Regions from separate parts of the Homo sapiens genome. Here regions 2 and 3 are each linked to region 1. The links come from fine-mapping of genetic effects on gene expression. A gene starts in region 1. Each other region holds a variant in brackets. All regions are shown on one strand. Distances are from middle to middle. Region 1 holds the start of THBD (thrombomodulin). Region 2 overlaps LOC101929707 (a long non-coding RNA gene). Region 3 has its middle 9.6 kb from the start of LINC00656.

Region 1 (2,758 bases):
CTAGCCTGGGTGTTGGGGTCGCAGTCGGCTGGACAGGCAGTCTGGTTGCAAAACATCTGGCACCTGTGCGGCTCGTGGGGAATGGGCGCGAAGCCCTCGGCGCAGACGCAGAGGTAGCTAGTTTGGTTCAGGGGCTGGCACTGGTACTCGCAGTTGGCTCTGAAGCACGGGTCCACGGGCTCCACACACTCGCCGTCCACCAGGTCGTAGTTAGGGTAGCAGTGGCACTCGAAGCCACCCTGTGTGTTGACACAGCGCTGCGGACACGGACTGGGCTCCAGTATGCAGTCATCCACGTCCTCGCACCGGTGTTGGTCGGCCGCCAGCCGGTAGCCGGTCTCGCACATGCACGAGTAGGAGCCCGGCTGGTCGGGGTTGGGAACGCAGAAGTGCTCGCAGAGGTCGTTGCAGGACTGCGTCGCGGATGCGGTGCAGGAGCGCCCGTCTGCCTGCAGGGCGGCGCCGGCTGGGCACTGGCAGCGGGGAGCCCCAGGGATCGCATTGCACGCGTGCTCGCAGCCGCCGTTCTCCACGCTGCAGTCCCAAGCGCCCGGCGCCTCCCTGGCCCAGTGCCCCTGGACCGCTCCGGGCGGCGCGGTGCACATTAGCTGTAAGCCGAGGGGAGCCACCGCGGCGGAGCTGCCCACCGGCAGCGCCTGGAAGTCCGCTCCGCGGGCCGCGAACGGGGTGCCGTAGGTGATCGAGACGGCGGCAGCCGCGGCGCCGGGCTCCACAGCCAGTGGCCTGCAGGTGGCTGGGAAGTGGAACTCGCAGAGGAAGCCATCGGCCTTCACTTCGCACTGCTGCTCCTCCCAGATCGGCTCGCTGGGCACAGTGGCCTCAGCAGCGGAGACAGCGACGCACAACGGGCCGCAGAGGGGAGCCCCATTGAGGTCGAGCCGTGCCCACCTGCTATAGCTGGTGTTGTTGTCTCCCGTAACCCACTGGAAGCCGCGCAGGGGCCCGAGGCGCTTGGGGTCGCCGCAGCCGGGTGGCAGCTGCAGGCCGATCCAGAGGCGCCGGCGGCCAACGCCGCCGTCGCCGTTCAGTAGCAAGGAAATGACATCGGCAGCCACCGAGGAGCGCACTGTCATTAGGTGGCCCCGCAGTCCGTCGCAGATCTGACTGGCATTGAGGAAGGTCGCGGGGCCCGGGTAGAGCGCGAAGCAGTCGTGCTCGACGCACTGGCTGCCACCCGGCTGCGGCTCTGCGGGTGCGGGGAACCCCAGGCCGGCCAGGGCCAGCGCGCCAAGGACCAGGACCCCAAGCATGTTACCCAGGCGCGCCGCGTGCAGGCGCCGGGGAAAGCGCGGGCACTGCGACAGGGCCGTGCCGGAGCAGAGGGGCACAGGACGCCGATGGCGACAGCCTCTCCTGTCCGTCCCAGCCCAGACACTTCTTGCCGCTGCGCGCAGCCCCTGCGAGGCAGCCTCTGACATGCGGATCGGCCAGGGCTCGAGTTTATAAGTGCCCGGCCCTCCCTCCCTGGACGTTCGGGAAAAGGAAGGAAGTGCCTGGTGGGAAGGGCTGATGCCGCATACTCGGATTGCTGGGTTCTCTGGCCGCCCTTGCGCCCGCCCTCGCGCATGGGATCACCTCGCCGGGATGAGTAAACCCTGCCCTGGCGCAGGGAGGTTCTCGGGCGGGGCCGACAGGGGCAGGCGCCAGGGAAGGCCAGCACCCCTGTAACAAGACGACTGTCCCCGCCCACCACTCGGGCCCCCACGCGTGCAGCCCTCTTTCATCTCTTGGTCCTCCTTTCTTTCTTTTCATACATGTTACAGCCACTTCCAAGGAAAGCCTGGATTGCAAGAGCTCTGGGAACCGGAGACTTCAGAGAAGAGGGCTTTGAATGGGGAGTGGGGGAGGTGGTGCACAGGACCTGCAAGACGCTGGGAGGGGTGATCGGCACCAAGGGCACTTTGGGAGGACCTGCCTAGGACGTGGACTTCCCCGAAGACAGGATCGCAAGGAGAGACAGCTGGATCCTGTCCGCGGCCAAGGTGCCTGGCTCAGGAAACCAGCGGAGCGCGCTTGGCCTCACAGGACAGTGGGTGTGGCTGGGGTGACGGGGCAGGGTGGGGAAGACTGGCCTAACACCAGCGCCCTCTGCCCCATGGCTGGCCAGGGACCCGCGAGTCCCTGGACACGCACTGGCCAACGCCAGACCCCATCTCATCGGGTGGGGAAGTCGCGGGGACACTGTCAGGGCGCCGAAGTCCGGACCCGGCTCAGAGGCGGTGGCAGGTGAATTGCTGCGGCGCCGGGTAGGGGCGGGCGCGTGGGAGCGAGTCAGCCTGGCCAGTTTCGGCCCAGCTTCCGAAGGATGGTGCTTCTTGCACCCCAACAGAGTGGCTGGCAACCCCCCAGGGGAGCGCGCAGGATCCCAGCTGATCCCACCCGGGTCGGCTAAGGAGGTTTCCATTTCGTCCAGAGTCCGAATTGATACCCACGTGCATAGAAACGCCACTTGCTCGGCAAAGGGCACTGAAGAGCCACCGTCCTGTGGATGGGCAGGGTGGGGGGGGGGCTGGAGGAGGACATGGGAATCCGTCACTTTCGACCTCTTCCGGTGGTTCACTTACCGGGAATGCGGAAGAGTGGGTCTCCCCCTCGGGTCGCCCCCATAATGGTGAGAGGCAAACTGTTTAAAAACACCCTTGCCTCTCTCCTCTACTGTCCTCACAACGAGCGCCAGGGGGCGGCGCTGTCGAGCTCTAAACAAAGCCAAGGAAGTTGGAGAAGTTTCGGGCTAAAA
Region 2 (2,758 bases), 28 kb before region 1:
CGGAAACACAGCACATTTCCCCAGAAGGCTGCAGAGGTCTCTGCTACTCCGTGGAATCCTAGAACCCCAGCTCTGCGAAAGGGAACGAGGCCTATGAACTACTCACAGGAGCTAATTAGACATGCAGGAATTTACTTAATTAAATAGTTACGTATTGAACAGATGGGCTGTTGTCAGAGGTATTCGAACCAGAGCGACTCCATCTTGAATAGGGGCTGGGTAAAATAAGGCTGAGACCTACTGGGCTGCATTCTCAGAAGGTTAAGGGGTCATGGGGTGAGATAGGAGGTTGACACGTGAAACAGGTCACAAAGGCTTTGCTGATAAAACAGCATGCAGTAAAGAAGCCAGCCAAATCCCACCAAAACCAAGATGGTGACGAAAATGACCTTTGATTGTCCTCACTGCTCATTACATGCTAATTATAATGCGTTGGCATGCTAAAAGACACTCCCACCAGCGCCATGAGAGTTTACAGATGCCATGCAATGTCTGAAAGTTACCCCATATGGTCTAAAAAGGGGAGGAATCCTCAGTTCTGGGATTGCCCAACCTTTTCCCAGGAAACCCATGAATAATCCACCCCTTGTTTAGCATATAATTGAGAAATAACCATAAAAACAGCCAACCAGAAGCCCTCAGGGCTGTTCTGCTTATGGAGTAGGCATTCTTTATTCCTTTACTCTCCTAATAAACTTGCTTTTACTTTACGCTATTGATTTGCCTTGAATTCTTTCTTGAGTGAGATCCAAGAACCCTCTCTTAGGATCTGGATCAGGACCTCCTTCCAGTAACACTATGGGCCAAGCAGGGTTTTAGACAGCAAGTCTGTCGTAACAAAAAGATCTCGGAAAATAGAGTGTGGTTTGTAGCTATCGTTACTGACAGTCTTCTCTTGAACACGGTCACAGAGTTCTGGAAACTTAACACAAACAGATATTTTTAAGAAACTGTGTTATTTCTAACAGTTGTGTTATTTCTAATAACTCGCAAATAAGTCATAAACATATCTCAAAAGAAAAGTATACATGGGAGAAGTCAAATGTGGACTGGGAGGGCCTCCATTGTGGCCCTTTAAAACACAGACAAGGTGTTGTAGCACAGCAGTAAGCTTTTCTGGAGGCATTTCCTTCAGGCTCACCACCCATTGTTTGGAAGGAAAAGTGAGCACATTTACCACCCCTGGCAGAGATCTAAGGTCCTGATTTCAGCCCACAGCACTTCAAGCTAATCAAGAGACTCTGGTATATTGCACTGTTTATACATCCAAAGCCACACCTGTTATAGTGAAGCCCTCTGTATTATCTTAGTAACTTGTATTTGCAGAGGAGGAAGAGCTTTAAAATAACAGCCATTATCTTGTGTATTTGGCATCTCCAAAGTATTGTCCAGATCTGCACATTGTAACAATGCTAAAATTACCAGGAAAGATAGGCATCTCCGTAATACCTCAGAGTTGCTCAGTGAGGCAGGCAAAGCAAAGAAAAGGGAAGGTAGTGCCTCCCCTAAGTCCAGGCAGCCTCACCCATGGCAGGACAGAGGAGAAGGCACC[C/A]TGCAGGACAGAAGAAAGAGTATCTTTTTGATGGTGTAAGTCTACTGGAATGCTAATTGCACATGTGGATTAGACACTATTTTTACCACCCCCCCCCAAAAAAAAAACCCAGGTTCTTTTGCTTGGCAAGTAAGAAATCAATCTCCTTGAGACTGTAGGTTTGATCAACAGGAGTTTTATTACTTGGCACAAATAAGCATGCTGTTGGGAGTACTCTCCAAAGCCATGTCTCCCTGAGGGAAAGTGACAGGAGGACTTCATGGGGAGATGGAGAGAAGAGAGGACGCGTCATGGCATGTGGAGGAGGAGCCTCAGTGGTGCAGACACAGCGAGTCATCACACCAGCACATAGGTTGCATGTTATGGTGATGAAGCTGTGGCTCATCCCAGGATGGAGACACTAGCATGGTCATGAGGAAAGTTCACTCGGGTTTGTCTATAAGCTGCTGAGGTCTACTGAGAGCTGGTTCCAAGCAATAAGACAACTGCATTCCACACAAAATGCAGGGCAGTAGGCTGTAAAACACGCTGATTGTTCAAGGCGATTACATTCCTATAATCACTCCAGACCCTCTGGAGTGGAGAATCATCTCTGTCCCATAAAAGACAAAGAACTTCACTTGAATCCTCCAAAGATGGTGACAGGTGGATGTCAAAGAAATGTAGGCATGGAGATTGTGGGGTTTGCTCTGGTACCGTTGGTGCCAGTAGGAAGGGAAAGAGGGGATGTCGAGTTTCCATCCCAGGGGGCAGCAGTGAGAGAAGGAACATGCCTGGGGGCAGTGGAGACCCTCTTCAGACAGACACCAATGGCCAACCAAAGTCAGGAGCACTGGTTCTCAAACCGAAGCACCAGCAGAAAGAGACCCTCTCTTTCTGTTCATGCTGTCAGTAGACTGAGGTCTGAAAAAAAATTAGAGCTGCCTTTGCAATGATTTCATCAACAGTTGAACAAGTTAAATGCATTGCTTTGTCCTATTCGGTTGTGTCAAAGAATTAAAAGGTAAAGATGAACCTCTAAATTTAACATTTTATTTGGGAAGAAAGAATTGCAAGACCACATATTGGGTGGTTTTCGGTGTGTCTAAAGAACAAAGAGATGGTTGGAGGTTTTATAACAAAGAGAAGTGTTATGTATTGCTCTTTGAGAAAGTTCATTGGCACTAGTACAGTTCCGGTGAGGTGGCAACTTTTGATTGGTAAGTA
Region 3 (2,758 bases), 73 kb after region 1:
GGCCTCCCAGCTCTGGAACCTGCTGCTGGATGCCTCTTATCTGAATTGTGACTCCTCAAGAGATAAGAGCCTTTTTCTTAACAGAAAGGCAGGAGTTTGAAGCCTTCTGTATCCTGCATCTCTGAGCTCAGGCCTCCCGAGAAGCAGGAGCCGACTTCCAGCGGAGAGCACTGCTGCTGAGACCTGCCTGGTGGTCAGCTTGGGCTGGTGAGCCAGGGCCAGGCACAGGATGGTGGGGGTGGTGGGGGCTGCAGAGGGGGAGGGTGGTAGCCTGGAGGACCTGCTGGGCTTGCAGGCCCCCACCTGTCCTGGGGAACTGAGCAGAGGTCACGACGGCAGGACAAAGCCCCTTCTGAGAGAAGGATCTGAATCCATTCCTCGCTTCCAGGTTGTTGTTATTTTTGCTGTGCTTTTGATGACACCAGCACTGCCTCTCTACGTACAGCTGATTAGCAACCCTGATGATGACATTTACGGGGTGTTCATATGTCAACTAGAGCATCTACGTGTTCCTGTGGTTTTGGAGCAAGAGTGATTTGAGTTTCAGAGATTTTTACTAATTCTTCTTCCCCTACCAGAAAAAAAGATCTTACCATTTGAGAGTGAGATGTAAACCCAGCCCTGTCTGACCTGAGTCTGTGCCCTAAGCCTATGCTAAGCCAAGCAGTGCCTGGAGCCACCACAGGTCCACACAATTCGTTAACATGATGAAGCAAGGATGGAAATTGGACAAAATAGTGTGCCTACTGAATCTAAGAATGAAAAATGATTGCACTCCTACTCTGAGTGCTTTGGAGCACTGCCCAGTTGGGCAAAGGGTCAGCGCCTGGGCAGAGGTCCCCACAACCTGGCAGGAGTGTGGTCGGCCACCCTATGGGCCTCCATCATGTGCAGTGACAGCGGGGCTGTCATGTCACCGTGTGGGAGGGCTTGCAGGTGAAGTGGTCTGGGAGGGGTCCCCCAGACAAAGCCAAGGTTCTGAGAGTTGGCCCGAACACTGCTGGATTCCACGGCGGGGGCTTGGGACAGCCGGACTCAGAGACAGTAGGAGGTGACAATGTATATACATCACAATGATCACAATATAGCCCCACACGTGCCTTCCCCACCAACAGTCAGCTTGCCATGTCCCTTCCCCGACATCCCCATCTTAGTCCCAACACAGAGGCTCCCTCTGCCCTGTGTCTGTTTAGCCAGGATGCCACGGTTCTTCCCCCTTCTCCCATGTCCTCCTCCACACACCCTTCAAGGGCAACCCCAGAGATTTCTCCTCCATGATTTCTAAAGTCAGTGGTAAATCTGTTCCTCTTTAAAATCTCATCACACTGTTCACCACTTCCCCTATAATACAGTTCCGCATGGCCACGTCATACAACCCTGTCATATTGGTGAGCAATTGCTGTGTAGCCAAAGACCCCAAAACTCAAACAGCATTTATTATTATTGCCCCCATGTCTGAGAGTCAGATGTGCATTTGCTGATCTCAGCTTGTTTGAGCTGCTGCAGGGTTGGGGCTCTGCTCCAGGCAGGCTTAGCTGTCACCACATGCACACATACATTCTGGGCCTCTGCTG[T/C]GCGCGTCACGTTCACTGAAGATCTTGGGATTGGGAGTTAGGGCGGTGGGAGGGCCCAGCAAAGTCACCTGGCGATGGCAGGGACACAGGGAGGAATGTAGAATGGGGCCGATGATGGGACCCACACGTCTGCAAAGCTGCGGTCTCCTTGAGGGGTGGAGACAGCAACAACTCACCGCACGCGGTGCTTCAGTTCACCATCTCCCTGGGACATTAGGGGTCCCCGTGTTATCTCATTTTGCTCTGGTTTGCATTAGTTTTTTATCACTTCGTAGATGAAGCCACTGACACCCAGAGAGGGAAAGTGGCCTGACCAAGGGCCACAGCAGGGGAGCGAAGGAGCCCCACAGTCCGGCAGGAACACAGCCTCTCCCTGGCTTTCAGGTTCACTGACATCTTCTCATGGCCTCTGTAACTCACCAGGCATCAGGGTGTAGTCCTTAGACCAGTGTCCCACAGCTGCCACAGAGTGGGAGCTCACCATCAGTTATAAGTCACTAGAAAGGCTTTTGGACATTATAAGCTACAATGGAAAATAAGTCATCTGTGGATTTTTGTGACAGATTCCAAAAATTTGAATATTTTGTCTACTTAGGTTTTTGGTTAATTTTATCCTCAAAACTGTTCTGCAGTGATTAAGCTGTACAAACTGCACCATGGGCGAATTGGCATATTCAGAAATGACTGATATTCTTGATTTCAGTTTTTTACTTTGTATGTAGCTCCTCAAGGAAACATCATGTAACTTGATTCCCTGGGAAGGTCCAGTGCATGGCACGCATGGGCCAGAGGCCACTCTCCTCCATCCGTAGACCACACGTGTGGACAAGCCCCCAGCATGCCTAGAGGAGCAAGGCCAGGGCTGTGCATGCTGAGGCGCCCGTGGCCAGTGTCAACAGGAAAAACTAACTCCGCCAGTTGTACACGTCAGCCAGGTGTGGGGTCATGCATTTCTCAACCCTCGGGGACTCCTCAGGATGGGATGGAAGATGTGTAGGTAGATTTTGAAGAAACTGCAGATGGTGTTTCAGAGAGACGGTAGAACCATCCATCTCCACTGTAGCCCAGGAATAAAACTGTGCAGCTTGACATCCCCTCTCCCATTCAGGAATAAAAAGGAACAAACAACTGATACACACAACATTTGAATCTCAGAATCACTATGTGGAGTGAAATAAGTCAGA

Evidence for each region. PIP is the estimated chance that this variant, and not a neighbour inherited with it, causes the effect.
Region 2: its variant is fine-mapped to the expression of THBD in whole blood (TOPMed, PIP above 0.99).
Region 3: its variant is fine-mapped to the expression of THBD in whole blood (INTERVAL, PIP above 0.99).

The regions. Positions count from the first base shown.
Region 1 is chr20:23,048,234-23,050,991 of GRCh38, forward strand. It overlaps THBD (thrombomodulin), which reads right to left and starts at 1,439. Exons shown (of 1, transcript NM_000361.3): 1 at 1-1,439. The coding sequence starts at 1,271.
Region 2 is chr20:23,020,257-23,023,014 of GRCh38, forward strand. The region is part of intron 1 of LOC101929707 (a long non-coding RNA gene); the gene reads right to left. Among named protein-coding and RNA genes, the nearest start is that of SSTR4, 14 kb to the right of the region's middle. The variant C/A (reference allele first, on the strand shown) is at 1,553.
Region 3 is chr20:23,121,656-23,124,413 of GRCh38, forward strand. No RefSeq gene overlaps it. Among named protein-coding and RNA genes, the nearest start is that of LINC00656, 9.6 kb to the right of the region's middle. The variant T/C (reference allele first, on the strand shown) is at 1,575.